Regions from separate parts of the Homo sapiens genome. Here all the other regions are linked to region 3. The links come from fine-mapping of genetic effects on gene expression. A gene starts in region 3. Each other region holds a variant in brackets. All regions are shown on one strand. Distances are from middle to middle.

Region 1 (6,258 bases), 39 kb after region 3:
AAAGTTTCAGCAATAGAATTGCACAAATAGAAGAAAACATAAGAGCCCAAAGACCAGGCTTTTGAATTAACCCAATCCAACAAAGACAAAAGAGAATAAAAAAAATGAACAAAGCCTCCAAGAAATTTGGGAATTATGTTAAATGACCAAATCTAAGAATAATTGGTGTTCCTGAGGAATAAGAGAAATCTAAAAGTTTGGAAAACTTATTTGAGGGAACAATCAAGGAAAACTTCCCTGGTCTTGCCAGAGATCTAGACATCTAAATACAAGAACCTCAAAGAACACCTGGAAAATTCTTCACAAAACATCATCACCTAGGCACATGGTCATCAGGTTATCAAAAGTCAAGATGAAGTAAAGAATCTCAAGAGCTGTGAAGCAAAAGCATCAGGTAATCTATAAAGGAAAACCTATCGGATTTCCAGCAGTTTTCTCAGCAGAAACCCTGCAAGGCAGAAGTGATTGGGGTCCTCTCTTTAGCCTCTCTTCAGCCAAGAATTTTGTATCTAGTGAAACTAAGCTTCATAAATGAAAGAGAGATAAAGTCTTTTTCAGACAAAGAAATGCTGAGCGAATTCGCCACTACCAAGCCAGCATTACAAGAAATGCTGAAAGGAGTCCTAAATCTTGAAAGAAAATCTTGAAATACACCAAAATAGAACCTCCTTAAAGCATAAATCTCACAGGATCTATAAAACAATAACACAATGAAAAAAAGCCCAAGGTATTCAGGCAACAACTAGCATGATGAATAGAATAGTACCTTACATCTCAATACTAAAGTTGACTATAAATGGTGTAAATGGTCCACTTAAAAGATACAGAATGGCAGAATGGATAAAGATCATTCAAGACTACTATGAACACCTTTATGCACACAAACTAGAAAACCTAGAGGAGATAGATACATTCCTGGAAATATACAACCCTCGTAGATTAAACCAGGAAGAAACAAATTCTGAACAGACCGATAACAAGTAGCGAGATTAAGAGTAATTAAAAAATCGCCAACAATGAAAGGCTAGGACCAGATGGATTCATGACTGAATTCTATCAACATTCAAAGAAGAATTGGGGCTGGGTGTGGTGGCTCACGCCTGTAATCCCAGCACTTTGGGAGGCCAAGGCAGGTGGATCACCTGAGGTCAGGAGTTTGAGACCAACCTGACCAACATGGTGAAACCCCATCTCTACGAAACATACAAAAATTAGCTGGATGTGGTGGCAGGTGCCTGTAATCCCAGCTACTTGGGAGGCTGAGGCAGGAGAATTGCTTGAATCCAGGAGGTGGAGGTTGCAGTGAGCTGAGATCACACCATTGGATTCCATCACAGGCAACAAGAAAAGAATTGGTACCAATCCTACTGAAACTATTCCAAAAGATAAAGAGAGAATCCTCCCTAAATCATTCTATGAAGCCAGTATTACCCATATACCAAAACTAGGAAGGAACATAACAAAAACAACAAAAAAACTACATATCAATATCCCCAATAAACATAGATGCAAAACTCCACAACAAAATACTAGCTAACTGAATTCAACAATATATTAAGGATAATGCACCATGATCAAGTGTATTTCATGATGGGGACGCAAGGTTGGTGTAACATACACAAGCCAATAGATGCAATACACCACATAAACAGAAGTAAAAACAAAGATAATGATCATCCCAATAGATGCAGAAAAAGCATTTGACAAAATCCAGCAGCTTTTTATGAGTAAAACCCTCAGCAAAATCGGTACAGAAGGAACATACCTTAAGGTAATAAAAGCCATCTATGACAAGCTCACAACCAACATTATACTGAATGGGGAAGCGTTTAAAGTATTTCCTTTAAGAACTGAAACAAGACAAGGATGCCCACTTTCACTACTTCTATTCAACACAGTACTAGGAGTCCTAGCCAGAGCAATCAGACAAGAGAAAGAAAGGGCATCCACATTGGTAAAGAGGAAGTCAAACTGTCACCGTTTGCTGATGATATGATCGTATACCTAGAAAACCCTAAAGACTCATTTGGAAAGCTTCTAGATCTGATAATGAACTCAGTAAAGTTTCAGGATACAAAATCAGTATATACAAATAAATATCACTGCTATACACCAACAGCAACCAAGCTGAGAATCAAATCAAGAACTTAACCCCTTTTACAACAGCTGCAAAGAAAATAAAATATTTAGGAATATACCTAACCAAGGAAGTATAAGATCTCTACAAGGAAAACTACAAAACACTGCTGAAAGAAATCATAGATGACACAAACGAATGGAAACACATCCCATGCTCATGGCTGTGTAGAATCAATATTGTGAAAATGACCATATTGCCAAAAGCAATCTATAAGTTCAATGCAATTCCTGCCATAATATCATCACCATTCTTTACAGAACTAGAAAAAGCAATCCTAAAATTCATGTGGAACCGAAAAAGAGCCTGCATAGTCAAAACAAGACTAAGCAAAAAGAACAAATCTGGAGGCATCACATTACCCGACTTCAAACTATACTACAGGCTATACTTATCAAATAGCATGATACTGGTATAAATATAGACCAATGGAACAGAATAGAGAAGCCAGAAATAAAGCCAGATACTTAATAGCCAACTGATCTTTGACAAAGCAAATGAAAACATAAAGTGGGGGAAAGCACACCCTATTCAACAAATGGTGCTGAGATAATTGGCAAGCCACATGTGGAAGAATGAAACTGGGTTCTCATCTCTCACCTTATACAAAAATCAATTCAAGATGAATCAAAGACTTAAATCTAAGACCCAAAACCATAAAAGTTCTAGAAGATAACACTGGAAAAACTCATGTAGACCTTGGCCTAAAGAGTTCATGGCCAAGGACCAAAATGCAAATGCAACAAAAACAAAGATAAATAGATGGGATTTAATTAAACTAAAAAGCTTCTGCACAGCAAAAGAAATAATCAGCAGCGTAAACAACTCACAGAGTGGGAGAAAATATTCAGAAACTATCCATCTGACAAAGGGCTAATATTTAGAATCTACAGGAACTCAAATCAGCAAGAAAAAAACAAATAATCCTATCATAAAGTGGGCTGAGGACATGAGTAGACAATTATCACAAGAAGATACACAAATGGGCCAGGTGCAGTGGCCCATGCCTCTAATCCCAGCACTTTGGGAGGCCAAGGCTGGTGGATCGCTTGAGGTCAGGAGTTCGAGACCAGGGCCAACATGGTGAAACCCTGTCTCTACTAAAAATACAAAAAAAAAAAAAAAAAAAAAA[T/AAT]GAGCTGGGCATGGTGGTGTGTGCCTGTGATCCCAGCTACTCGGGAGGCTGAGGTTGGGAGGATTGCTTGAACCTGGGAAGCAGAGGTTGCAGTGAGCCAGGGTTGCACCACTGCACTCCAGCCTGGGTGACAAAGTGAGACCCTGTCTCAAAAAAGATAAAAAATAAGATATACAAGTGGCCAAGAAACATATGAAAAAATGCTCAACATCACTAATTATCAGGGAAATGCAAATCGAAACCACAATGTGATACCACCTTATTCCTACAAGAATGGCCATAATTAAAAAATAAAAAAATAATAGATGTTGGCATAGATATGGTGAAAAGGAAACAGTTTTACACTGCTGGTGGGAATGTAAACTAGTACAACCACTATGGAAAACAGTATGGAGATTCTTTAAAGAACCAAAAGCTACCATTTGATCCAGCAATCCCGCTCCTGGGTATCTACCCAGAGGAAAAGAAGTCATTTTATGAAAAAGACACATGCACACGCATGTTTATAGCAGCACAATTCACAATTGCAAAAATCTGGAACCAGCCTAAATGCCCATCAACCAACGAGTAGATGAAGAAAATGTGGTATATATATATATATATCATGGACTACTACTCAGCCATAAAAAGGAATGAAATAACAGCATTCGCAGCAACCTGGATAAAGCTGGAGATTGTTAGTCTAAGTGAAGTAACTCAGGAATGGAAAACCAAACATCATATGTTCTCACTTATGAGTGGGAGCAAAGGCATTAGGAATGACATAATGGACTCTGGGGCCTTGCAGGGAAGGGTGGGAGGGGGGTGAGGGACAAAAGACTACACACTGGGTGCAGTGTACACTGCTCAGGTGATGGATACATCAAAATCTCAGAAATCACACCTAAATAACTTATCCATGTAACCAAATACCACCTGTTCCTTAAAAAATTGAAATAATAATAATTTGAAAAAAATAGTCTATTCAAAAAAAATGTTCTTTTGTGGATTGATGAGGACATAAAACAAAAATCAGGTAGGGAAGAAATTGAAATTGGTTCTTCACATGATACACAAAGGTAAATTCCAGATGGAAAAAAGTACTTAAATATCAAAATAAAATGCTTGGTAGAACATATGGAAGTGAATATTTTTCTGATTCTGGGGTGTGGCGGGAATTCTTAAACATAAAAAAGAAAAGTTTGGTCAAATTGACTATATTAAAATTAAGTCCTTTTATTTATCAAAAAAATCCCTTAAAGATAGCAAAGACTGATTACAAACTGATAAAAAGTTTATGCAATATAGATAACTAATAAAGAGTCAGTATCAAGAATATATAATGCAACAATAAATCAATAAGGATAACCCGTTAGGAAAATGGGCAAAAGATAAAAAACAGGCGTTTCATAGAAGAGGAAACACATAGCCAGCATGTGTTGAACCTGTGTTCACACTAGAGATATGCAAATCAAGACCACATGAAATTTCGTTGACATTTGAGTGGCAAAAATTAATAAGTCTGATAATATCAATTGATATAGGGCAGGCCTTCTCCAACATCAGCAGGAATTACCTATGAATCTTTTTTTAAATGCATCATTTGATTTAGTAGATTTGGAGTGGGGCCTGAGATGCTGTATTTCTAACAGATTTCCAAGTGATGCTGATTCCACTGGTCTGTGGACTACAATTTCAGTTGCAAAGTTGAAGAGTATGTAGATCAGCGGGATCTCTTAAATATGAGAGGTCCGTTTTTGTTGTTGTTGCTGTTAGCCGGCAGCCAGTCTTTGCTTCTAGAGGCTGCCTGCATTCCTTCTCATGTTTCCATGGGCAACATGGAGGCTCAGTCCACTAGCAGTGGCAGGTTGAGTCCCACTCATGCTTTGAATCTGTTGAACTCTATCCTTCTGCTGCTGTTTTCTGACCAGCTAGAAAAAATTTCTTTGCTTTTAAGGGTTCATGTGATTATACTGGGTCTAGCCAGATTATCCAGGATAATCTATATTTTGAAGTGTATAACCTTAGTTATATTTGCAAAATCCCATGAGCCATGTCACGTAAAATTCACAGGATCCAAGGATTAGAGAATAGGCATCTCTAGGGGGATCATTCTGTTTACCGTAATGAAAAATTATGATCTTTTGCTCAGTTCCCAGACTTGGACCAGTTCTCTGATCCAGACCTAATCAATTGAAGGGTCTCCTTCATGAAGAACCCTGCAATAATACAGCAAATGTACACAGAGCAGCTGTCCAACCTTTCTCAAAGGAATCTATGCTCACTTGTCCAAGTAACAGTACACTGGAGAAAGGAATCTAACCAGGTGTTTCAAAGATTCTTGGGAATACAGTCAAGCTAACATTGTTGCTTGGGTACCCAAAACACCACAGTGGCTCTGATGTTAATGGGAGCATGTGGAGATGGGGTAATGAATGGAGTGCTGGCCCAAATCTGTTTTACACTTCGGTCCACTGTGTCCCTAGACATACTCTGTGGTCATTTTCCCACTTCCTGAATGCATAATCAGCATGGACATATTTAATAACAGGCAGAACCATCACACTGGTTCTTTGACTTATGGAGAGAGAATTATCATGGTAGGAAAAGACAAATAGAAACCACTGACCCTTCTCTTTCTCTGCAAGATAGTAAATCGGAAATAATACTATATCCTGGTAGAATGGCAGAGATTAATGTCAGTCTCAGTGACTTAATGGCTGAAGTGTGGTGATTCCTATCATATTCCTACTTAATTAATGAGACTGTCCTTGCAAAGGACTGATGGAATGTGCTAGGTGATGGTAAACTATTACAGTACATTCAATCAAGCAATTTCCTGGCCACAGCTGCTATACCAGAAACGGTATCTTGACTAGATGAGATGAACACAGCCTGTGGTACTTCATAAGCAACTATTGACATGGAGAGTGCATTCTTTCAGTTCCTGCCTGACAGGAAAGAGAATCAGAAGGAGTTCACATTCACTTGGAATTGACAAAAGTATACA
Region 2 (6,258 bases), 150 kb after region 3:
GGTTGCTTCACTCTTAGCCTCTCAAGTGATGACACCAAGGTGAGAACTTCTTTCACTAAAAGGCTTAATCTTTTAAATAACTGAACCAGAAAGTCGTTTCTAACAAGAATACAGATAAACATTACAAAGAACAAAGAAAAGATATGTTCAAAATCTGTCAGGTTCCAACAAGGGTTACTTTTTCCCTGAAGAGAGAAGATGAACCATTGCCTAGAAGTAATGTGTAGCTGACTGTCCCGTGGTTCTATGTCTGAGTAACACAGTCTCATCTCTCATGTGTATGTGTGCATATATACATGTATATGACTATAGTGGTATCAGCAATCATGTATATTTTCAAGCTTAAATATGATGAAATTGTTAAAGGACTATAGTCCTAATTAAAACTAATACAGAATATACTTAATCACACTTCTGTTCCTAACTTGTCCTTTTAGGCATGATCTTATCTCTTGATTGTGGCCACCCGTAAAGAAAAGCGTATCTCTAATCTCAGAAGCACAAGGAGTTCATACCAGGAAACCAAGATTAGTAAGTATTTTTGTGGTGAATACCTTTTGAATAAGACAGGATTAATGTAACAGTTAAAAGTATAGAAATATAAAAGTTACGAACTTACTGGTGATTTTTTTCTTTGGTGTGGACATTTGTTGATCTTTAAAATATATCACAGGAGTAAATAAAAGATCTATAGAATTTACAAAAATGTCAAAATGAACCAGAAGACAATAAAGTCACTCAAGATATATGTTAATGACCTCATAGAGGAAACTTTTTTTTTCCTTTCAGGAACATCATGCTATCGTCTTTCAAAATTACTATGTAGGATCAGTGGAACACTAGACACTGACAGAGTGGGCCCTGCATCCTTCACTGCTTCCTCATGGAGGGATTTCCAGGACAGGGGCCCTCTTTGCCTGTCTCCGCCCTTGGTGGCGAATATGGGTGGGGGATGGATCTGGGCATGCTCACATCAGCCCCTCCCTTGCTCTTCTCTCTTTGGATCTTGCTTGCAGTGAGAGGGCTTTTTCTTCCTGTTTTTTGGAGGGTGAGATCTGCGCGGAGCTGTTCAATGCTGCCTGGACTGGGTATTAGTATGCTTAGCTCAAGGTGAAGTATAAGCCAACTCATGAGGCCCAGCAGTGCATCCCCTTTCTTCTCTGAGTTCTCCCCAGTACAAATCTGGTGCTTGGATCTCTTTCTGACTCCTCAGTTTATCTGTCAAATGGTTCCAAACTTGAGTAGGGTGAGAGGATCATCCCCCGTCAAATGTACATTATTCATACACTGTAATGGCGTAAAAGAACCCTAGACACATGGACTCCCTTGCTAATAAGTGCACCTTCAAAGCGATAGTCATTATTTAGCATTTATCGGAAGAGGCTGGCCCCAGCTCTGGTGAAGGGCAGAGAAGGTGTGGGTGGCCTCACGTGTTCTCAATGTCACAAAATGATAGCATTAAACAGACCCACTCCCTCATGGAAGGCAATTTGACGACCTTCTATTGATATTGCAACATGTGTCTCTGGCAGCAGATCTCAATCCTTATGTAAGGGATATGGGAAGACTTCCTCCACTTCATGTATATGCTTTCCCTAAGCAGATCTGGCAGATGCAAATTTATCCATATCTTTTCATTTCCATTGAAGTTTTAGTATCCACATCCCCTCCTGAAGACAGAAAACTTGTCTTTGTAACCCTTTTTATTTCAGCTGATCTAAATAATTAGTTCAGATTTACCCTGACAAATGGCTTTTACCATTTTTAGTTTCTTACCCTGTAACAAAATACTGCCATCAAGTTTTGATTATGAAAATGGCTGAAGGCAAGGGACCATATGAGAGAGCGCAATCAACAACATAGTCTTTTTGCCCAACAGAATTGGACATTTTTGGCTTAGAGAATTAAAGCACAATGACTGTTCCTGAAAATCAGTACAGTAGTCATAATAAAACTTTTTTCTTGGCTGGGCACAGTGTTGCATGCCTGTAATCTCAGCACTTTGGGAGGTTGAGGTGGGAGGATCACTTGAGCCCAGATCTTGAGACCAGCCTAGGCAACACAGTGAAACCTCGTCTATGCTAAAATAAAAAAAAAAATTAGCCAGGTGTGATGGTGTGAGTCTGTAGTCCCAGCTACTTGCTTGAGCCCAGGAGAACAAGGCTGCAGGGAGCCATGATCATGCCACTACACTCCAGACTGGATGACAGAACAAGATCCTGTCTCAAAACAAAGCAAACAAAACAACTTTTTCTTTTTAAAATTGAACTACTTATTATAACTGCAGACATTTCTATACAATATTTCTTTTTAATCTCTTGAAATTAAATCCTATTTTTTAAAGAATACACATGATTAAATACAAACAAAAAACCCCTCCAAACCCTATTGGATTTCCAACCTCAGCTCACAACTGATACCTTATACAAAAGTTAACTAATATCAGTCTTCAACAGGCCAGGGATGGTGGCTCATGCCTGTAATCCCAGCACTTTGGGAGGCCGAAGGGGGAGGATCACTTGAGTCCAGAAGGTTGAGACCAGCATTGGCAACAAAGTGAGACCCTGTCTCTACAGAAAACTAAAAAATTAGCTGGGCATGGTGATGCATGCCTGTAGTCCCAGCTACTCGGGAGGCTGAGATGGGAGGATCAACTGGGCTCAGGAGGTCATGATCTTGCAGCCACAACACTCTAGCCTGGGGGACAGAGCGAGACCCCATCTCTAAAAAAATAAAAAAAAATTAAAAAAAATCTTCAACATAAATGTGAATCTAAAACTATAACATTTCAAGAAGGAATCATAGGAGAAAATCTTTGTGACCATAAGTTAGGTAAAGATTTCTTAGATAAGACAACAAAAGGGTGATCCATAAGAGAAAAAAAATTGATGAACTGGGACTTCATCAAAATTAAAAACCTCTGCTCTTCAAAATGCAAAAGATATAAAGAGAACACTGAAAGTACATCTTCATCTCTTACTTTTTCTTCCCAGTCCAATTTCCCTCTCCAGCATCAACCAAATACTGTTACCATTTCTCAAGTTCCCTCCTAAGCCAGCCCATACATAATAAGCATATAGATATAAGCTGTATGGTGGTTCTAATGCTTTTTTACTTAGTTTTTTTTTTTTAATTCCATATTCAATAGATTTATTCGATTATTCAGTGTAGTCCTACACTCCCAAAAGCATTCACTGGTCATCCATGTAGCCGAGGC[A/G]AAATTCTTTGCAAGTAATTAGTTTTGAAGTTTACTTAAGCAAATATGGAAACAAAACATTAAAATTTTTAATTCGTTTGCCTTGGCTAAAACAAACAAAAAATATTTCCTAAGTTATCAGCTCACTGTGTATTATTTAGGCCATACTTCATATTTTAGCTATGTCAGCTGTGGTATCCTGGGGGAAAGATGTTGTCATGTGGGGCCTCACACCAAAATATTATTTGAAGTACATAGAAACCAGCTTCTTCAATTTCTTCCATTTCTTTGGGCATTGTGTTTTCAAATAATGAAATTCTCTCTTAAAGAAAAATGAGGATCTCTTTAGTCACGTTGAGGACTAGAGGAAGTATTTTCCTCAGGCTGAATTTTTTGTTTTTTGAGACTCTGTCATCCCAGACTGGAGTGCAGTGGCACGATCTCAGCTCACTGCAACCTCCGCCTCCTGGGTTCAAGTGATTCTTGTGCCTCAGCCTCCCAAATAACCGGGATTACAGACGTGCACCACCAGGCACAGATAATTTTTGTATTTTAGTAGAGACAGGGTTTCACCATGTTGGCCAGGCTGGCCTCAAACTCCTGACTTCAAGTGATCTGCCCACCTCGGCCTCCCAGAGTGCAGGATTACAGGCAGTAGCCACTGCGCCTGGCTCTCAGGCTGAATTAAAATCACCTTTCACACTCCACAGCACAACTTACTTCCCAGATGACTCACTCAACTATTGGAGTGAGCAAGAAGAGTACTCCCATCTCTCTTTTACTATCTTGTTTTATTTACTTCACAGCATTTATTACTGAAATGACTACACTGATGTATTTCTTTTTAGACTTTCTGCCTCTGCCCCGACTCCAGACCTGGGAGTCCGAGGGGGCTTCTGTCCAGCTGTGCATGGCTGTGGTTGAGGGTCTGGTGTCAACAGATCCTTCTCCACCATATCAACTCCATTTCTACCACTGGGATTGGCCCTTATTACTGTTACCTGGTTTGTACACTCAGCAGCAGTTTTCAGACGCGAAAAGATAAGAGATGAGCATTTAGAGTAATTATCATCAATTCTGCAGCACTGTTTCGGGTGTAAAGGTTGTGTGTTCACCCGATTTCACATCCTCCAGACCTGCACTGTCCCACTATGGTAGCCATTAGCCACATGTAGCTATTAAGTGCTTGAACAGTGGTTAGTCAGAATTGAGACGTGTTGTAAGTGTCAAGTACACAGCAGATTTAAAAAATTTAGTTTAAAAAGATATTGGAAAATGATCTTATGACAATTTTTATATTATTTACATGTTAAAATAATATTTTGAATATATTGGGTTAAACAACATGTACTATTAAAATTAATTTCTTTTTCCTTTTTAATGTGACTACTAGAAAACAAACTGCATATGTGGTCTTCATTGTGGTGGTTCACATTCTGTTTCTACTGTACAGTGCTCCTTGAGGCCTAGTTCTAAAAGTTCCCTCACTTCTCACAAGGGTTACTGTCTGTTTGTCCTACTAGAGGTTCGCCAGATGCTCTACTGAACAGGAATTATACAGCAGAGCCTCAGAATCTAAGGACTTGGTCTCTGAGGGACCGATATTTGGGGTAGTGGTGATAGATTTGTCCATGATAGTGGCAAAAAGTTGTCCTCCAATTTTTTACAAGTTTCCTATTTGCTGACTTCCCATCAAGTAATATTAGAAATGATTCTAAGCTTGCATTTCTCAAGCCTTTCCACTCTTCTAAGACATCCACACATGGTCAGCATGTCTGGGGCACCGTCGGTGCTACCCATTGACAGATGAGAGCCCTCCATCTCCAGCAGAGCCTTCTCCTTCAGGCAGTGAGAGAAGACTCCGCTTCCATAGACAGGATCATCCTGTTCAGATCAACTACAAGGCCACAGTTGTAAAGGAGTCAGTCCTGCCAGCAGCTGTGAGCATGGATAACTATCAGTCATGGGGAGGAAGCTGTCGCCTCCAAAGATTTAGGGTAAAAGGCAGAAGATAGCAGGCTGTGGGGTGGAGATGAATTTGACTTTTCTCTCACGTGAAATGCAGGTAAGCCCCGAGTCATGTAACAGAGCAAAGCAAAAATGTTGTAACACGTTGACAAGAGGAAGGAATGACCAATTATAACGCTGAGGTTTTATGTTTAAATGCTACAAATTTTTCTCCAGTTTATAAATACATTTAAATAAAAGTCTTAATGCAAAAGTACAAAAATGATAGTCTACTGTCTTAAGACGCACCGACTATTTTTATATTTAGAGTAAGGTGAGGGGGATGGGAGTGAATCCAGATTGAATAGTGCCAGACAATGGGCAGAACGGGACTCTTAAACACACATTATCTTTCTTCCAAGAAACTACTATTGCTTCCTTCTTAAAGCCCACTCTGGATTTTTTTTTTTAATTTTTATTTTTTTTGAGACTGGGTCTCATTCTGTTGCCCTGGTTGGAGTGCGGTGGCACTATCACGGCTCACTGCAGCCTCGACCTCCCAGGCCCAAGTGATCCTTCCACCTTAGCCTCCCAAGTAGCTGGAACCGCAGGTATGTGCCACCGTGCCCAGCTAATTTTTTTACTTTTGTAGAGATGGGGTCTCCCTGTGTTGCCCAAGCTGGTCTCCAATTCCTAAGCTCAAGCAATTCTCCTGAGTTGGCCTCCCAAAGTGCTGGGATGACAGGCGTGAGCACTCTGGAAAGTTAATACAATCTTCTGAACCAAGGTATTGTTATTAGTTATCCATCTTTTGACCCAAAAACCAGTATCTCAGAGAAACATGCCAAATTAAAGAGATTACAATGGATACTTTCTTCACACTCGAAATAAAAGATAGCATCTTAATAAAAGTATTTATGCTTGATCAAACTTTATAAAAACAAGATGCCGGGAAAAATATCTTCCAGCCCATTTATGAGTGTATAACTTAAAGAAAAAATGACCCCTGATGTACTAACTTTGTGTGGCTAAATATAGTTAGCAGCCCTCATGCTTCATAGCCCATTTTCCCCTGGAATTCAGCTAATATAAATAAAACAAATGAAGGGAACCTG
Region 3 (6,258 bases):
GCATGTCCTCCTTTGGGTCAGGAGAAGCTTCCATTGCAAGAGATGTTTGAGCCACATTTTGAATGATAAATCAGATGTTACCAGGGAAAGCAGTGGGAGCATTCGAGGTTGAGAAGACAGTGTTTGGAGAAGCATGGATGTGTAGAAGTTGGAATGGTATTTAGGGAGTAGAATCAGCAGGACTTTGTGACTGATTGGATGTGGGATGTTGAGAGAGGGAAGGAATAAACTCCATGCTTCTGCCTTAGGCAACTGAGTGCCAGGTTTAGGTCTCGGTGGGCAGCCTCAGAGGCATAAACGCCAATTCAACAAAATAACAAGCTCATGGGCCACATTTTTTGTTCCCAATCAAAATGAAATAAACTTTTGTAAGTGATAAAAAGTACATTCCTTACAATTTAGATTACCCAGCAGATTGGATACAAGAATGCCAATGAGGAAATCAACATGCTTTTTAATCATAAAAGTTATATCTGTGCAGCCACACTAAGGCAGCTTTCTAATCTTTCTTCTTGAAAGAAGAGCATGGTCTGTATGGAGAAGTTAGCTGGCCACATGCAATTTGGGTCGTGCAGATTATCATCACTGCCTGAAGAATCCTGGGAGACTGCTTGCTGGCAGGAAGGGTTATGCTTCAATTATGGATCTGATAAGCTGGATGTGCTTAGTATGGTGCATTTGTAAAGAGGATTCTCAATGAATATTCAATCATAATTCATAAATTTCTTATAAATAAATTTTCCTGCATATTTGGAATCTTGGGCATTATAAATCTTGACGTATGAAAAAAATATTCATGAAAGGTACAACCCCCTTATAATTAGTTGCAGATTCAAATTTCGTATAACAGGGCAGTAGGCTTTAAATTACATCTTTTTCAATAACAGTTCCATTGGGATATAATTTGCATACGATACAATTCACACGCTTAAAGTGTACAATGCTTTCAATGAGTTTTTATTTACTTTAAAAAGTTTATGTTTTCTAACTGTTAGCAATTAAATGGTATTCCTTTTGTAATCAGAAAAGTAATACTAGGTATGCATATTTAAAAATTTGTATAACAGTCCTTATACATAAGGAATTTTCTCCTTCGATTGTGGGAGCCAAGAGAAAATATATCCTATGTGGATTTAAGTTAAAGTATAACATATGGTTAAAATATTACCACAAAAGTGGCATGTTTAGTGAGAAGGAAAGACTAAAGGTGGGTCATTCTAATGGCTTCCTTCAATGTCCTGCTGGGTAGGGGAGACCCAGTTTAATTTACAGATCCTCACTTCACTATCAGGGGCTTACAGAGAAACTTCCCCTGCTGTAACCTTCTCAGCTAATGGGTGATGTGCTGTGATAGATGTATTCTCACCCGGGATAGTGGTGATATTGTATTAAGAGGGAAAAAAAATAAATAATAACCTTGAGGTTTAACCTGAGGTATGTGTTGAATAAAAAGCCCAGCTTATCCATTTACAGTATATATACAGTGAGAAAAGTTGGAAGGTTTTCAGAATTCTGAATGTCACCTCATATCATGTGTTAGTGATCTTCATGATAGATGGCATAGATCTAAAAACCATTTTTTTTTGCTAAAATAACAATGTGTAGAAAAAAAAATAATCATTTTCCTAGCAAATGGAGAGAACTGTTCAAAAGATAAACCTCTCTGGTTTGACCTAAGGTGCAGGAATACAGTTGGCATTTAGGCTGACCCTTATATTGGTAATTTATGTAAAACAGTTTTTTCTTTCCAAGATTGCATAGTGTATAGTAGGAAAGTGAATAGACAAATTTGATCTGACCCATTTTTACATCACTGGGAAACTGTTTGTTTGTTTTTTAGAACACTGTTATTTTGAGACAGGGTCCTGCTGTGTCATGCAGGCTGGACTGCAGTGGTGCAATCATGGCTCACTGCAGCCTTGACCTCCTGGACTTACATGATCCTCCCAACTCAGCCTCCCGAGTAGCTGGGACCACAGGTAGGCCACCATGTCCAGCTAATTTTTTTTTGTATTTTCTGTAGAGATGGGGGTCGGGGGGGTGGGGGTCTTGCTGTGTTTCCTGGGTTGGTTTTGAACTTCTAGACTCAAGCAATCCTCCTGTCTCAGCCTCCCAAAGTGCTGGGATTACAGGCATGAGCCACCACGCCTGGCCTGCTAATAGTTCTTAAATGCAGCTCTTATCTTATTACTTCTGCAGTTAAAGGCCTGTTTAATGCTTGGCACCTGACTTTAAAGCTGACTATAATATAGCACCATCCCAAATTTCCTCAGGCTTGTTTCCTCATTGTTTCAAACATATATTGTTTCAAAGACACAATTTTTATGTGTGACTGTTTGCTTATATTGTTTAACTTCCTATTGTATTTGCTTTTAATAAAGTCTAATAGATGCTATGAAAACAGCCTTACAATCTCTTTTTCTTTTCATGAAGCTCACTGTCTACTACAATGCTTAGTGTGCCATTTAGGAGGACCTATGAGGAGGGAGTTTTGCTCAGGCTTCTCTGCTGCATAACCAGGAGGCTGATTTCTTACAGAAATTACCACTTGTAATTATATTTCCTTTGTTGCTTTCGCTGGCAGGAAACTCTAAGTTTATGAATCTCTTCTTTAATACTAAATAGATTCTTATAGCATGACTTTATTCGTATTTTTTCCACTGACCTAATTTATTGTTCTGGCCTTGTGGGAGAAGGGGCAGTGGTCCTCTTTGCCTTTTAAATTCAAATACTCATGTATTTTTGCAAACCATTTCAAATCTTTTTTTGGATCTAAATGGAATAGGAATAACAAATTTAAATTAATGCTCAACTTGCTTATTTATAGACTTTTTGCTCTTGTTTTCCTTTTTTCAAACCTCATCCAGCCCTCAAATCCAGCTTTTCCATGCACCCCTTCATTCTTCACTGATCTCCATTTTCTCGGAGCTCTTGTGTTAATATAATTTTGCATTTTACTAAGTATGATTTTGGATACCTCCTAGTGTTTCATGTGTATTAGTCCTGTAGTTCTGGGTTGTAGTTTTTTTAGTGGTAGGGACCATGGCTCATACTTTTCTGAATCTAGTAAAATAATATTGTATCAGAAATGCTTTCTGTTTACACTATAATTGTAACAAACATTGAATTTTTTAGCTTATTAACTCTCAGAGCACCCAGTACATCTTATTTAGAATTGCAGGAACCCATTTTTGTTTCTCTACAGCAGCCGAAGCTTGTTTCATAGATCTTGCAAGACTATTCAATCATTCAGTTAAAATTCCTTGACCTCCTGCTGGATGATGTTCGACAGGGCATTCATCTTCACGACACCCTTCGCGATGAATGGTAACATCTGGGCGGGTAGAGGTCCATTTCTACAGCAACCTGGGGGAGGAACAGGTAGGGTAGGTTTTGGTGTGGGTGCGATTCTTGGGGACTTCTTCAACAGGTAGGACATCAAGTCTGTAGCCAAAACAACACCTGGGCGAAGGGCAAATACCGGAGCCCCGACCGGCTCACGCCCAGTAATGCTTTCTCTGGGTTCTAACTACGTGATCAGGTCGTCTTGGTTTGCCAGGGAAAGCCCAGCGTCTTGACAACCCTGTCAGTTCCGAACAAACCGGGTCGATTGGTCACCGGGGCTCGAATCCCGACTGATATGACCCAGCGGGGACAGAGGATCCCCCTCAGTGCCACAAGTACATTCCCCACCGAGCAGCGCGCCTGCGCCAGTTGCTCTCATGCGTCAAGACTACAGGTCCCAGCAAGCATCGAGGCCCTCTCCAGGCCATTCTTCCGCCGGCGGGGAGCTCTCGTCGGCGTATTTGTTAGGTGTGGCGCGGAAGAGTCCGTGCGTGATGACGTCGACGCGGCGACGTCGAGCTCTTCCTCCTTTTCACGGCGTCTTGCATTACTATTGTGCGGCTGCAGGAGGTGTCGAGCGGCGTTATTTTTTTTTGCGGTTTGCCTTTTTTTTTCTTTTTTTTTTTTTTGGAACCGCGGTTGTTTAAAAGCCTGAGGGAACCTGGAGAGGGGCTCCCACTCCCTACCCTCTTTCCTCCGAGTTTGTGACTCCGAGATGGACAAAGTGTGTGCTGTTTTTGGAGGCTCCCGAGGCATTGGCAGAGCTGTGGCCCAGTTAATGGCCCGGAAAGGCTACCGACTGGCGGTCATTGCCAGAAACCTGGAAGGGGCCAAAGCCGCCGCCGGTGACCTCGGCGGTAGGTACCAAACTGGAGTTGTCCAGTTGTATGGCCGCGGTCCAGGCGCCTAAAGAAAATCTCCTTTGTAAAAAGAGCGGGTCTGGCCTTTAGGGCTCTAGGGTTACTCGATGTAGCCGCGTGCAGGCGCTCTCCCGTTCCAAGGGTAGAATGCGTCTCGTGCAGAAACCCGCGATCTCCCTATGCCTCGCAGAATGCCGGCCACGCAGCTTGCCGCCGAGGGCTGAACACTTGGGGTGTTCTTTGAGACCTCGTAGTCTTTTGAGGCCCCGCTATACGCACCCTCCGCCCTGCGGCTAGTGCTAACGCTGAGGAGCTTCCCTGTTGTGGGAGAGAGCCACGTAACAGTTTACTTTTAATGTAGGGAAAAGGGCGAGTTCTCGGCCCCCGGAGACAGGGCTGGGTCGAAAGGAGTTCAGGCAGGAAAGGTGGGAGTGCAGGTACCAACGGCTCCCTTCAGTTTTGCCCAAGGGCCGTGCCTTGGCCCTGCGCGAATGCACAAAGCAGTGTTTGATAGAGAAACCCTTTTGAGTACCAGCCAGTTTTGAGATATACCTGGTTTGCTTTAATGTTATTAAATTGTTTTGGTGAGTTTTGCAAATGGACAATTGAACTTTGTTCTGCCAAATTCTTTTTTATTGCATTTAAACTTCAGGGTTTTTTATTTCCGGCTTATTATGAATGGATTAGTCATTTTGTGAATATAACTCTTCATTGAGTTTAGGGAGAAATAGGACGTTAGATCCGAAGATGCTATTTGTTTAATCACCAGAATGGACAAAATTATACTTCATTTACTATCAGGGAGGCATGGGGAGAATAGAGGCCTAGGGGTGCGTCTTGTGGCTCTTACTGTTTTTGTGTATCTGGTTTTTTTTTTTTTTTTTTGAGAGGGCTTCCCATTATGTTGCCCGTGCTGGACCCCAACTCCTGATTTACTGGCTCTAGAGATCTTCTCGCCTCAGTCTCCCAAGGACCTGGGACTATAGACGCCAGGTGTGGCTGTTCATTTTTAAGTTAACATTATTGATCGGTTTGGTATCACCTGTTCAGTGCTGGTTGGGAGACTATTGGGCTCTCTAAAAGAAAAAAGATTCTGTAAGTTATAGGTCAGGGAGAGTGTCAGTGAATGCTTCTTGAAGCTCATATTCCTTACCATTCTAACAAAGGAGGGGAAGAGTGGTGACCCTTACTGTGTCACCCCAAGCCATCAGTGTTTGCTGGACTGGATTGAAGCCATTAGTTGGGCTTTCAAAGGTGGTTGTGGACACAAGTCTTCGGGTGAAAACCAAGAGTAAGAGAGACACAGGATGCTTTTGGGCCCTGCATTCCTTTGAATCGTGTTCCATGAGTGATTGGTTTTCATCTAGAAAGTATAATTCCCCGGGTCGCTTACTGTTTCCAAAGGCTTGATGGGGTAGTGTTGGTGTAAGCATATTTATCAAGGTCAGACAGAAAATAAAGAATTGTTTTAGCTTTTAAAAACAATCCTACATTTTAGAGTATTAAAATGGTAGATTACATAGGGAATGCTTTGTTTTCCTTTGAAGTGTAGTTTTTTTTTGGCATTTAACCATTTTTTAAAAGTGGTAAGTAACAGTTGCTTTTAGTAAAAAGTGTTTTTTTCCCCCCGTGGTTTGTAGTTTTAGCATTTTTATAGCTTCCTGTGTTGTCTCATCTCTCCTGATGGTCAGGTTTGAATAATAGTCGTTATAATATATGTGCCATAGTGCATCCGTAGCACTTAAAAAGAAGAAACCCAAGAGTTCCCGTTCAGGGCCAAAGAAACTAATTCAACAAAAACCTGACAGAATTAGACATAAATTTCAAAAAAGGAATATAAAACCCAGAAGACTGTCGAATTGGGTAGCATGAATTCAGTGTTAAAGCTATAAATATTAGATGAATCTTACAGAGCCTTTATAACTTGAAAAAGCCCTCCCCCCTTTGTTGATTAAAAAGAAAATTTTAAAATTAACTTTCTGTAGTAGTACTTTATTTCCTCTTTGTTCCCGCATCCCAGTTTCATTAGACCAACTCTATGAAAGCCAGGCCT
Region 4 (6,258 bases), 80 kb after region 3:
TTTGTGTCCTAATATATGGTCAATCCTGTAGAATGTTCCATGTGCTGATAAAAAGAATGTGTATTCTATTGCTGTTGGGTGAAATGTTCTGTAGGTGTCTGTTAGGTCCATTTAGTCTGTAGTACAGTTTAAATCCAATGTTTCTTTGTTGATTTTCTGTCTAGATGATCTGTCCAGTGCTGAAAGTGGGGTGTTAAAGTTCCCAACTGTTATTTTATTGAGGTCTATCTCTCCTTTTAGATCTAATAATATTTGCTTTATATATCTGGGTGCTTCAGTGTTGGGTGCATATATATTTACCATTGTTATGTCTTCTTGCTGAATTGATACCTTTATTATTATATAATGTCCTTCTTTGTCTCTATCACTTTTTACTTAAATAGCCTGTATTATCTGACATAAGAATAGCTACTTCTGCTCACTTTTTGTTTCTGTTTGCATTGATTATTTTTTTCCATCCCTTCACTTTCAGTCTTTGTGTGTCTTTTACAGGTGAGGTGAGTTTTTATTTGGCAGCATATAGTTGCATGGTTTTTTTATTCATTCATTCATTCAACGTCTTTTAATTGGGGAATTTAATTTATTTACATTCAAGGTTATTTATTGGTAGGTGAGGACTTAACTCTTGTCGTTTTATTGATGGTTTTCCGGTTGTATATTCCTTTCTCTTTAATCCTCCTTATTGTTTATTTTTGTGGCTTAGTGGTTTTCTGTAGTGATAAGGTTTGATTCCTTTCTCTTTCTCTTTTGTATATCAGCTCTACAAGTGAATTTTATAATTTCATTTGTTTTCATCATGGTGGTGGTTATTGTCTTTTCACTTCCAGATCTAAAACTCTCTTGAGTGTTTCTTGTAAGGCTAGTCTTCCCTTAGCTTTTGCATATCTGAAAAAGACTTTATTTTCTTTCATTTCTGAGGAATAGCTTTGCTTATATTTAATAAAGAATATTAAAGCAATATTCTTTACTGGCAATATTTTTCTTTTAGTACATTGAATATATTATTTCTTTTTTTCCCGGCCTGTAAGGTTTCTGCTATCTGCTGTTGGCCTAATGGGTATTCCCTTATATGTGACTTGACGTTTTTCTCTTGCTGTTGTTAGAATTCTTTCTTTGTATTTGACTTTTGACAATTTGACTATAATGTGCCTCAGAGAGGAACTGTTTAGGTTGAATCTCTTTGGGGACTTTAAGCTTCTTAGAGCTAGATGTTCATCTCTTTTCCAAAACTTGGGAAGTTTTTTGCTGTGATTTCATTAAATCTGTTTTCTATACCTTTTTCCTTCTCTTCTCCATCTGGAGTTCCAAAATGCAAATATTTGTTCACTTAACAGTGTCCCATACATTCTGTAGGCTTTCTTTATTCTTTTTTTTTTGTCTGCATGAGTTATTTCAAAAGGCCTACCTCCAAGTTCAGAAATTCTTTCCCCTGCTTTGTCTAATCTGTTGTTGAAGCTCTTGATTGCATTTTTTATTTTATTCATTGAATTCTTCAACTCTAAGATTTCTGTTGGGTTTTTTTTTTTTATGTTCTTTGTTGAATTTCTCATTCAAATCATGAATTACTTTCCTGATTTGAGGGAACAGTTTAGCTATATTCTCTTTACCTCACTGAGCTTCCTTAAGATTATTATTTTCAATTCTTTTTATGGCATTTCACATATTTCCTTATGATTAAGGTGTGTTACTGGAGCATTATTGTGTTCTTTTGGAGGTATCATGGTTTCTTGTTTTTTCATGTTTGATATGTTCCTTGATGTTGATTTCTATGCATCTGGTAGAACAGTCACCTCTTCTAATTTGATGAAAGGTTTTGTAGGGAAAGACGTATTTGTATTGGAGGATCTTATAGTGTCAGTTAGGGGGGGTGTGTTGGCTTTGGTTCTAGGTGGATGCAGTACTGTAGTGTCTGTGCAGATTCTTCAGCTGTAATCCAGTCTGCTGATGTTTGTAAGTGCCCAGTGGCCTAGGCTGTGAGAATTTGTAGCAGTGGTGGTGCAGCTTTGCTGGGGTGGGCTCACTGGATTGTTTCTCAAATTGGGGGCATGTGTGTGAACGGTGTCAACCAACTTGGGGTCTTGCTTGCTGGGATTGGGGCCACAGGGATGTTTCTCAGGCCCTGGGTACAGGCATGCTCATTTGGCCTGGGGGTGTGTCTGCCAGAGGTGGGCCAAGTGGGCTGTTTCTTGGGCTTGGGACAGTGGTGTGCCTCTCAGCCAGCCAGGGGGTGTGTCCATGGGGGTTGACCCCATGGGGCTCTTTCTTAGGCCCTGGGCATGGTCATGTGACAGCTCACCTGGCCCAGGGGTGTGTCTACTGGAAGTTAATCTCCCAAGCTGTTTCTCAGGCCCTGGGCATGGGCACAGGGCTGCTGGGAAGGTCTAGGGACATGTATGCTGGGATTGGGCCCACTGGACTGTTTCTCATACCCTAGCCTGGGCACAGTTCCACTGGGTAGGCCTGGAGGCATGTCCATGGAGGTAGGGGGCATTGGGCTGTTTCTCAGGCTTAGGAGATAGGCTGGTACTGGTTCTGGCCTGAGGGCATGTCAGGTGCTTAGCAGCTCAGGGGCCCAGTTTGGCCAGCTCAAGGGTAGGTATGTATGCTTTGGGAGAATTTGCTAGACTGTTTCTCTGCCTGGAAGTTCAGGCAATGATGGTTGGTTTTCCTGCTGTGCAGAACCAGAGTCACAGCCAATCCTGGGCCCAGGTTCTGAGCCTCCAGGGTTGTGGCATTGCAGCCACCCATGTGTGCTTGGTGGAATGACAGAGCCGCTGGGCTGGAGAGGTGCATTTGCTACTGGGCCCCACAGCAGGCACCTAAGGGGTGGAGAGTACATATCTCATGTTCCTAATCCAGAGGAATGCAGCTGTGCAATCGACAGTGGCTCTCTAAAGTCGGTTCAGGGCTTGTGAGGACTGTGGAATTCTCCTGTAGTAAGGATTGTAGGTGTTTGCAGTGGTAATGGGGGCTGATGGGGCTCTGCTTACGTTTTCCCAGCAAAGGAAAGTTTCTCCTCTTGACTCCAGGCCAGTCAGAGTTGGGGGATGCAGGGGCATGGGCAGCAGAGACAAGGTGTCTCCATGCTGCCTTCTGGACTTTCAGTGACCGCAGCTACCCCCACTGCACTCCAGTGCTCTTCCTTTGACACTTCAGTTGAATGTTAACTGTTTGTTCATTTGTTGATCCTTTCTTGGGGGGATGAATGCCAGGAACCTCTAGTCAGCCATCTTGCTGACATCACTCTTATGTAACTTCCCTTCCTCGTCAAATGCTGTTTTTCATATTTATCCCTGCCAATAGAAGTAAATCCATTTCTTTACCTTTAACTCTGAATAGTAAGTAATATTTCATTGTATGAATTAATTAGTTTTGTTCCTTCTTCTACTAATGACAAATTAGGCTTTCCTCAAATTTTTTATCCTTTTCTACGTATTTAAGCTTCTGTAGGGCCTGGTTCTTAATTTTTTTGGTGCCATATGCCTTTTTGACCCTCTGGTAAATCTTCTGGATCCCTTCTCAAAATAATGTTCATGGAGGCATAAAATAC[A/C]TAAAACAAATTATTTTTAAGTAATTATCAAAGTATTAAAAACAAATTTATAATACAAATGCCTATAAATTACATCTATTGGTAACTCTAACAACTGCCATAATTTTGAAGTAATGCTGAATTTAGATGGATTTTAAGATATTTCAATATTTGTAATATAATTTTTACTAGGACAGTCCCAGGTATTTTATACTGTTGTGTTTTGTTGCCTACATTCATAATTGAAGGAAATTCTAAATTTCAGCTAGGGGGTAATGTTTTTCCCATCCAAGTTCACAAATTTTAACCATCTGTGGAATTTTGTTAGGTGTGTACACATTTTGTAATTGAAATTTTACTTTAGTTTCCAACTACACTAAAATAATAGCTGAAATTTATTGAGCTCTTACTATGTGCCAGGTACCATGTCAAAATTATCATCCCATATAATCTTCACAGCAGCACAAAGAGAGGGGTGCTATTTTAATCTCCATTTTCCAAATAAGGAAACTGAGGCTTGGGGAGGTAAAGTAACTTGCTTATGGGTCACACATGATCAAAAGAGCTAGGATTCAAATCCTGGTTGGCCAACTCCAACACTCAAGTTCCTCACCACCATAATATAGAAGTTGTATTTCTATAATTTAAAGGGGTCAAACTAAATTTACATGATGATAAAGGAGGTTGTAGCTACTGAGCAAGCCAAGGGGATTGTCATGTTATGCATGTTCATAAAAGGGAAAATCAAGGACAAATTCAGCATTAAAATATATAATGAATCTTGTAAACTACATAGCAAGTCATGGGGTATAGAAGACAATGTGAAATACACAATTCTAGTCTAATTCAAATGTATCCTCAAAGCTCCATTATATTGCATATGTAAAAGATGAAATATTTTCACCTTATGGAGGCTGTGAATTAGATAAATGACCAGCTTTCTCTTTCCCGTAGTAGGAAAGCCTAGGCCCAAATATGTTGTCCGTCTGTTGTAACTATGTAGATATTAATGCTATATGTGTATATGAATATGGGTGTGTGTGTGTGTGTAATATCTCATTCCTTGTTCCATTTATACTTACTTTCTTCCTTTTCCCCTCACTTTTAATTTATATCATCTTGCTGTATTTTATGTATCCTTGTACGTCATGGCACTGGTGTGTATTTACATGCATACCTACAGTACATTGCTGTGGCAGGCAGAACTGTAAGATGGCCCCTAATATCCCCATCCTCTGGTGTATACACACCTTCTCTCAGTTATTCCAATCAAATGGCGATTTAGCTGCTGCTTTGAAGGGATTTGCAGATGTAATTAAGGTTCCCAAAGTCAGGTGACTTTAAGAAAGGGAGATTATCTGGATGGGCCTGACGTAATTTAAAAGGGACTGGGCCTTTGACAAAGAGAAAGTGTGAGAGGGATCTGAGGTGAAGGAGATTCTCACCACTAACCCTGAAGATGGAGCGGGCTACATGGCAAGGAATACAGGCGGCCTTCAGGAGCTGAGAGAGAGAGCTCCTGGCTGAGGGACTAAAGGAGACGTCTCTTCTACAATTGCACAGAGCTATCACAACCACTTGAATTTTGAAGAGGATCTTGAGCTCCAGATGAGAATACAGTCCAGCTGATACAATGATTTTAGCTTTATAAGATCCTGAACAGAGAACCCAGCTACATCCTGCCCGAACTTGATTTACAGAACTGTGAGTAATAAATGAGTGATGCTGAAGCCTCAAACATCACTCAAAGTTTATGCTAATTGTTATGGCAGCAACAGAAAACTAAAACTGAATATTTATTTTGCTTCACAAAACTGCAACTATTATTTGTCAAATATTTATTGATGTTAAATCCACATTACACCAGCACAACAATCCAAAGTAGTATGATTGATTGATAGTACTTTTTTTTTTATAAATACAATATAAAGGTGGCAAAATAATGCTAGTTAATCCCAAACCCAGCAAATCAGCAAAAAAAGGTCACATTCAGAAAAATTTGGCAAGTAAGACATAAGTCATAATTCTACAATAGAGATAGGTCCATGAGAGACTGTGTATGGTATCTTAAATTCCATATTAGCAATGCATATAAGTGCGGTCAAAGAAACTTGAACCACACTGCATAGAACATCTGCCACCCGGTGCTCAAGCCTATTAATCACTTAAACCTTGGTTGGTTGGTGTTCTTACAAAGAAGTAGAAAGCTGTACATGTGAAACAGTAATATGAAATATATGGGGTGGTACACAGATATAAAATTATTTTAAAAAATACTACGTATGAATTGAGTAACTGAGCTAAGAGAGGCCACTTATAAATAATGAAAGATACATGTGTTTTGCATAAGGAATACAGTGTTTTCTTTTCATAGCAAAGTACCATTAAAGCCTCATGTTTTATACTACTAGGTCAAATTATTTTTTCTCCTTTTTAAAATTTATCGGTTCCGACTTAAAACCATCAAGTCTGGTCAGAATCAACTCAGTCTAGCTGATGCAAAATCATATGCATTCAAAAAGCAGTCTTTACCGAGATGCCTTTACAAACCTTGGAATCCAGCACCTTCTTAAGGCAAAGTTTCATGGCAGCAGGGAAGTGAACTAATAATTTTCATTTACCACATCTTGGTGTCTTTGAAAAAATACTTTATGGCACAAACCTGTTTTTGTCTCTCCTTATGTCTCCACTTCCTTCAAGTAGACTAGATGCTACAGGCAATTTCTCAT
Region 5 (6,258 bases), 160 kb after region 3:
GAATCCTGTGACTCTTGACTTCCCTGTCCCCAGTGACTTTCGCTTGCTCTTGGGATCAACTCCAAATTCCTTCACCTGGCCCACCAGGCCTGGTCGCCCCCTGTAGCCTCTTCTTTTCTCCCTCCCACCCCCATTCTCAGAGTCTCAGCCCTTCCCTTCAATGTGCGATTCCTCCTGACTGCACACCTGTCTCTGTCTCCCATTTAGCCTTCAGATGTCAGGTCAAACATCACTTCCTGAGGCTCTTTCCTCAGGCCTCCAAACCACACGAGGTCTTTCAGTTTCCTGCCCTCAGAGGTTGTGGCACATTTTTTTCGCAGCATCTGCCACACCAGCACTCCTTACATGTCTTTTATCTGGTCTCTAATAATTCCACGCACCCAGGCCCTTGAGGGTCTTTTCTAGCTTTGGTAAAATGCGAGCTGGGAGGGAGGATGCTGACAGAGGAGTGAGTAAAGGCTGGTCTAGAGGGCATCTGAGAGCTTCTGTGGACTTCTTCTAGAAGGACCATTGATCATCTGTAAAACAACCTGTATTTGACTTTTAAGGCCAAAATTTCTAAGGAAAAAAATGTCTGTACACACATGGGAAAAGCTAGTAATTATGCTGGCTAAAAGAAAAAGTTACTCTGTGAGATGCTCATATATGAAGTCCTCTCAGATGTTGCTATCTCACTTCTCATTTTCCTATCAATAATTAGCTATGTGTGACTTTTCTCCCTTTACACTGCAATGTGGTTTCTTCTGTTTTTCCTAAATGGCTAAAATTATGAAAACTAATTTATTAGTCCTAAAAAGTAAACTTGACATTTTTTGTAAAGTTTAACAGTAAATAAAGAGTTAATATTACCAAAAACAACTGAGGCAGGGAAAAGGGCAATTCCAGTGCAAAGTCTACTACCCACTGATATCTGTGATACATAAAATATTCTAAACACAACATGTAGGTTTCTTGATATCCACACCTAGAAAGCATTAGAGGGAATTAAGAGAAATTGTAGCCGATTAACTCATCTAAAAGCCCACAAAGCAGAATAAATCTAATTACCATGGCTTAAGGCAAATAATACCTCTTGCAAAATAACCAAAAATTCAAGCTTAAAGAGCAACTACACTCTTGTAGGCACTACTAACTTTGTGGATGGTTCTTTCCTTTTGAGACAGGGTCTCACTCTGTTGCCCAGGCTGGAGTGTGCAGTGGCATAGTCACGGCTCACTGCAGCCTTGACTTCCTGGGCTCAAGCAATCCTCCTGCCTCAGCCTCCCGAGTAGCTGGCACTACAGGTGTGAGTTACTGCACCCGGCTAATTTTTGTAGAGATAGTCTAGCTATGTTGCCCAGGCTTGTGTTTTTGTTTGTTTCTTTTCTTTTCTTTTCATTCTACCTTCTTTCCCAGCTCTCTCAATGAATTTAACAAATACTGATTGAGCTTTTACTACATGTTGGGTGCCAGAAATCTAGTAGTGATCAAAACAGACACAGCACTTGCCTTCATGAAGCCACATGAAGCCAGCAAGTACAGTGTGGCCTAAAACAGAAGAATGTTTAACTGCATGAAGGCAGGGTGCTTTGTATTGCTGGGCTTGGTGTATATTTCTTTGCTATCTAGTTTAATATATTGAGCTTTACATCTGTGCCAGCCTTGCATGTCCATATACCTTTGGCAGGCATTTCTAGTCAGGTGGCATGGGGCAAGGGGTGTGCTACGTTTTAAGTCCCTCATTTCTCCAGCCTGTCCAGGTAGTGTCTACGTCTCCAACTCACTCAGGAAGGCAGGAGACTTCCAGATTCACTCCACTGGTATCAAGAGTTAGGTTCTGGTGAGAGAGCTGGCAGAAGCTTCAGAGGACCTTGCGTCTTAGCCTCCTCTTTTTTTCCTGTCCTCAACAGCAAGTTGTTGCCTCTAATTTTCAGAAAATCGCAGCACATTTCCAGGAGACCTGAAATGCGGTGGACTGCTTCAACATTAGATTATTTTGGCAGACAGGGATAGTATTTAGTGTAACGTCACCTATATGCTTATCAAATAGGGGTAAGGGAGTCATAATTATTTTAATGTCTAATATTAACGGTTCTTTAATAAATTACTTATTAAAGTTCCAAGGTATAAGTCTTTTAATAGAAACAGGTTTCAGCCAGGCGTGGGGCTTATGCCTGTAATCCCAGCACTTTGGGAGGCCAAGGAGGGTGGATCACTTGAGGTCAGGAGTTCGAGACCAGCCTGGCCAGCATGGTGAAACCCCGTCTCTATTAAAAATACAAAAATTAGCTGGGCGAGGTGGTGCTCGCCTGTAGTCCCAACTACTAGGGAGGCCGAAGCATGAGAATTGCTTGAACCCGGGAGGC[AG/G]AGGTTGCAGTGAGCCGAGATTGCGCCATTGCACTCCAGCCTGGGTGAAACAGCCAGACTCCGTCTCAAAAACAAAACAAAACAAAAAACAGGTTTGGAATGAATGCAAAAAATCTACGAGAGACTGGCCAGTTGTACTATTAAGTTATCAAACAGTTTTATCCTGCCTCTCTCTTCCATTTTATATATTTAAGTCACTTTTAATTTATGGGGGTATGGAGGAGAGACATATTCTGGAGATGGAGAAAATAAAGGTAAGCCAGACTGTGGGTCCACAGGCTCTGCAGCAGGGAATAAATGTTGGTGCAATTGGCAGGTTAGAGACACATGGGAGGAAGGGAAGAGGATGTAAAGAGACAAAGACAAGAAGGGAGACTGTAGGAAGCTGTGTGTGTGCTGCTGGCCTGGGAGACGGCACCCACTGACCTCCTCTGGCCTCTCAGTCACACTTGGGCCAGATTAATTCATTCTGCAAACTTTTCTTGCCTGCCCATGGAATGCCAGGTACTGAGCTAGGGTTCGCAGACACATGCTAAGCAGCAGTAAAAAGAGCTTATTTTGTATAATACTCAGCTACTACTGAGCTAAAACTAGGAGAGCATATTAGAAATGACAGACTTAGGCTGGGCGCGGTGGCTCATGCCTGTAATTCCAGCATTTTGGGAGGCCGAGGCGGGCGGATCACCTGAGGTCAGGAATTCAAGACCAGCCTTACCAACATGGAGAAACCCCGTCTCCACTAAAAATAAAAAAATTAGCCAGGTGTGGTGGTGCACGCCTGTAATCCTAGCTACTCAGGAGGCTGAGGCAGGAGAATAGCTTGAACCTGGGAGGTGGAGGTGGTGAGCCAAGATCGCACCATTGCACTCCAGCCTGGGCAACAAAAGCAAAACTCCATCTCAAAAAAAAAAAAAAAAAAAAAAAAAAAAGAAATGACAGACTTACAAATTATATAAGTGAGAAAAGGAGACTGACTTTCCCTACAGTATACCGCATTTTTTCCAGGCTTTTCAAACAGGTTTGCAATGTGAACAATCGTTATCTTCTAGAGGACTTTTATGAAGGATTTTAGTAGTGCAGGCCTGGACATACCATATTAAAAACAAACCATTTTAGAGTCAGGGAAATGTTTCCCTCTTATCTTTTAAATTCTTGGTGGGGAGTAGGGGCTGAAGGGGGAGCATTCATTCCTTCCAGGAGCCAGGTTGCAGAAGAAAGCACTCTCACACAGGAGCAGGAGGGCTGAGGCCTCGCGAGCTACCCCCACGCTTGGTTCTGGCAGATCACTTACATTTCAGGACCTAGGCAGATGAAGTTTCCTGGCTATATGCTAAGACAAAACTTTTCCTGCTTAAAATCAGATCTTTCATTTTTTAGTATTGAGTATAAGGGAGGATTAAAGGAGTTTATTGCTTTAAAAATTAAGGAAATACACTGAAAAACTGGATAGGAGTTTATTCATTGTATTTTATGACACCAAAGATGAGCAAATGCATTCGTAAGTATACATAATAAAATAAATATAGCCTGGCATCTCTTTTAATGGAGGTAGCTTGGGGGTGAGAAGAGGGAATGGGGAAGATAAGCTGGGGGCCAGCTCTGAATTCTTTATGAGCCCCCTGATGCAGCCAGCCACACGTGGTGTGAATCTCAATAGTGCCAGTTCTTCTTTCCAAGGGTCAGTGTTTTTTTTTTTTTGCTTTAAAAATGGGGATAATAATACCTGTAATGAGATTTCTTGTAAAGTTTAAGTGAGGTTATAAATGTAAAAGTCTAATGTCAAATCTGGCTACCAAGAATTCAAATTTTCTTTCACTTTCCATCAATAATGATAAAACGTGAATATTAAGCATGGTTTGGATTGAAAACCTTCTCAGGGTCTCAAAGTCTAGTCGAGAATTCAATTCAGACTTTAAAAAGCAGACATTCAGTTCTCTCCAGATTTGTGAATGAATGCATTGTTACTAAAGAAGTTTCAGTGCCAAAATATACACTGTCTCTTCCTTTCTCCTTTTTCTTCTGCAGCTAAGTCGGCCAGAGCATTCTAGAAATCACCTTAAAAACGCATCCCTCTTCTCCTACTGGAGTTTATACAATGACAAAAATCTGATCTGGCTTTTTCAAAAAGCAAACAACAAAACATCCAAACAACATAACCCTGAGTCTTTAACAGAAAGCTGGTGCTTGCACCAGGGGCGTGCAGACGTCTGGAACGCATTACAATCAGCTCCCTAAGGGGCAGCTTATCTCTTCCTCTGATGCTATCGGTTTGCCAAGGAAAGTTAAAGACAAAAGTCAACTGTTGCACCCAGTTGGAATGTGAACATGTGGGAGAACCTGAAATATACTAAGACTAATTTATGTTCCGATGGGAGTGGCTCTCATGGTAAGGACTGAAGCAGTATATCCTGCTTTTTTAACGAATTTTTTAACGAAAAAAATTCTCACAGCCTGCAGGAAGAGCTACAAAATAACCCCCTCTCATCTTTACTGACTGTAGTTAGTACTCTCGTGTTGCATTTTAGGGAAAGTTCATTTGTGTCTGCAGTGGACTTCGAAGTTAATCATACCACAAAACTGTAGAGAATGAACATCTTGAAATTATTTCAGAAATAAGAGCTCCAGGTAGCCTTTGAGATTGGTAAAGTTTAGAAATAAAGTATACTTACAAAGCTGCATCTTATGACGTTGCAAAAGACTGATTTAGGATCATTATTTGGTGTGAAATACATTTTGCCAATGTAAGCCTTTCCTTTCAACTGTTTAAGGCATAGAATACTAGTACATTCTACATTTAATGTTTGAATTCTACCAGTTTTAGAGCTCAGAACTCAAATTAGCATCGTTCTAAGTTTGACAATAACCCTCTTTTTGCTTTTAATAGTGTCTCCCTTCATGTACTGAGTGTGCCTACGTTTTCCTCGAATTGTTTTCTCATCAGTGGTGGTGTGAGAAGCCTTCTTTTAGGAGAAAAAACACAGAACACCACCAAGTAGATCTGTGTCTAAGATGGCCAGTGCATTCGGCACACTCTCTGGGCTGACAGGCACTGAACAATGGCTCTTGCTCAATAGGCCTGGTTTCCAGTCACTGACAACAACGATCAGTACCTTCAATCTCTAAATTACACAAATTTACAGCTTTGATTTTTAGTCTTAGAAGCCATCAAGGACAGGCCCCAGGACAAAACAAAGTGGCTGGCTCCCATCTGCTGAGTAAGCAGAAGGGACAGTGGAGGAGTTCCTCTCAGTTTGCTTCACTTTCACTTTGCCCAGGGGTGGGGTGGGGTGGGGTGGGGTGGGACGGGGGTAGGGTTGCCGGAGGAGGCTAACTCAGTCCTCAGTCACCACCTGAGGACCACTCTCCAGGAACTTAGCACCCCCTGGGCTCAGTTTTCTTAGAGGTTAAATGAGTAGATTAGGCTAAATTCTGGCTCTAAAATTGAGTAACTATTACAGGGAAGTAAAAAATAATTCTGAATAATACTGATTGGGAAATAGAGTGTCAGAATTAGTTCTACAGCTAATTAGCTCTCTCTTAATATGCCTGGGACTTAGTTTCTTCCTTTTTTTTTCTTTTTTAGAAAAGGAATATTCATTGTGAGAAACTGAAGTATCAGAAAGTATAAGAGTATAACTGGATTGTTTGTAATACAAAGGATAAGTGCTTGAGGTGATGGATACCCCATTTACCCTGATGTGATTATTACGCATTGCATGTCCATATCCAAATAGCCCATATACACACCTATGTACCCACAAAAATTAAAGATAAAATATTAATTAAAAAATAAAGTGAAAGTAGTACGATAATAAAGTAAATGTAAAGAATTTCCCACATAACCACCAATCCTCATACAATTCCACTCCACAGGGCAAAACACCAATAAAATCTTGGTGCTATCTTTCCAGA

Direction of the effects. Alleles are on the strand shown, and positions count from the first base shown. SD is a standard deviation of normalised expression in the study named. Not every link is listed here.
For the expression in monocytes after Pam3CSK4 of the gene that starts at base 3,895 in region 3, allele T in region 1 goes with a lower level than allele AAT (large effect, 0.94 SD a copy in Quach 2016).
As copies of C replace A in region 4, the expression in esophagus mucosa of the gene that starts at base 3,895 in region 3 goes up (moderate effect, 0.44 SD a copy in GTEx).

What was found. PIP is the estimated chance that this variant, and not a neighbour inherited with it, causes the effect.
Region 1: its variant is fine-mapped to the expression of CBR4 in monocytes after Pam3CSK4 (Quach 2016, PIP 0.95).
Region 2: its variant is fine-mapped to the expression of CBR4 in monocytes (TOPMed, PIP above 0.99). The same link has a PIP of 0.9 or more in blood mononuclear cells and whole blood.
Region 4: its variant is fine-mapped to the expression of CBR4 in esophagus mucosa (GTEx, PIP 0.97).
Region 5: its variant is fine-mapped to the expression of CBR4 in monocytes (TOPMed, PIP above 0.99).

What each region holds. Positions count from the first base shown.
Region 1 is chr4:168,968,448-168,974,705 of GRCh38, reverse strand. It overlaps a transcript of CBR4 not described here. Among named protein-coding and RNA genes, the nearest start is that of CBR4, 39 kb to the left of the region's middle. The variant T/AAT (reference allele first, on the strand shown) is at 3,270.
Region 2 is chr4:168,858,153-168,864,410 of GRCh38, reverse strand. The region is part of intron 10 of PALLD (palladin, cytoskeletal associated protein); the gene reads right to left. It overlaps LOC102723331 (a long non-coding RNA gene), which reads left to right. Exons shown (of 2, transcript XR_007058358.1): 1 at 1-39; 2 at 438-6,258. Among named protein-coding and RNA genes, the nearest start is that of CBR4, 150 kb to the left of the region's middle. The variant A/G (reference allele first, on the strand shown) is at 3,218.
Region 3 is chr4:169,007,892-169,014,149 of GRCh38, reverse strand. CBR4 (carbonyl reductase 4) reads left to right here and starts at 3,895. Exons shown (of 5, transcript NM_032783.5): 1 at 3,895-4,202. The coding sequence starts at 4,061. It overlaps CBR4-DT (CBR4 divergent transcript), which reads right to left and starts at 3,721. Exons shown (of 2, transcript NR_185919.1): 1 at 3,694-3,721; 2 at 3,090-3,366. RefSeq lists enhancers at 3,516-3,845, 3,945-4,894.
Region 4 is chr4:168,927,512-168,933,769 of GRCh38, reverse strand. It overlaps PALLD (palladin, cytoskeletal associated protein), which reads right to left. Exons shown (of 22, transcript NM_001166108.2): 22 at 5,329-6,258. It also overlaps a transcript of CBR4 not described here. Among named protein-coding and RNA genes, the nearest start is that of CBR4, 80 kb to the left of the region's middle. RefSeq lists an enhancer at 2,441-2,942. The variant A/C (reference allele first, on the strand shown) is at 3,551.
Region 5 is chr4:168,847,541-168,853,798 of GRCh38, reverse strand. The region is part of intron 10 of PALLD (palladin, cytoskeletal associated protein); the gene reads right to left. It overlaps LOC102723331 (a long non-coding RNA gene), which reads left to right. Exons shown (of 2, transcript XR_007058358.1): 2 at 1-6,258. Among named protein-coding and RNA genes, the nearest start is that of CBR4, 160 kb to the left of the region's middle. The variant AG/G (reference allele first, on the strand shown) is at 2,346.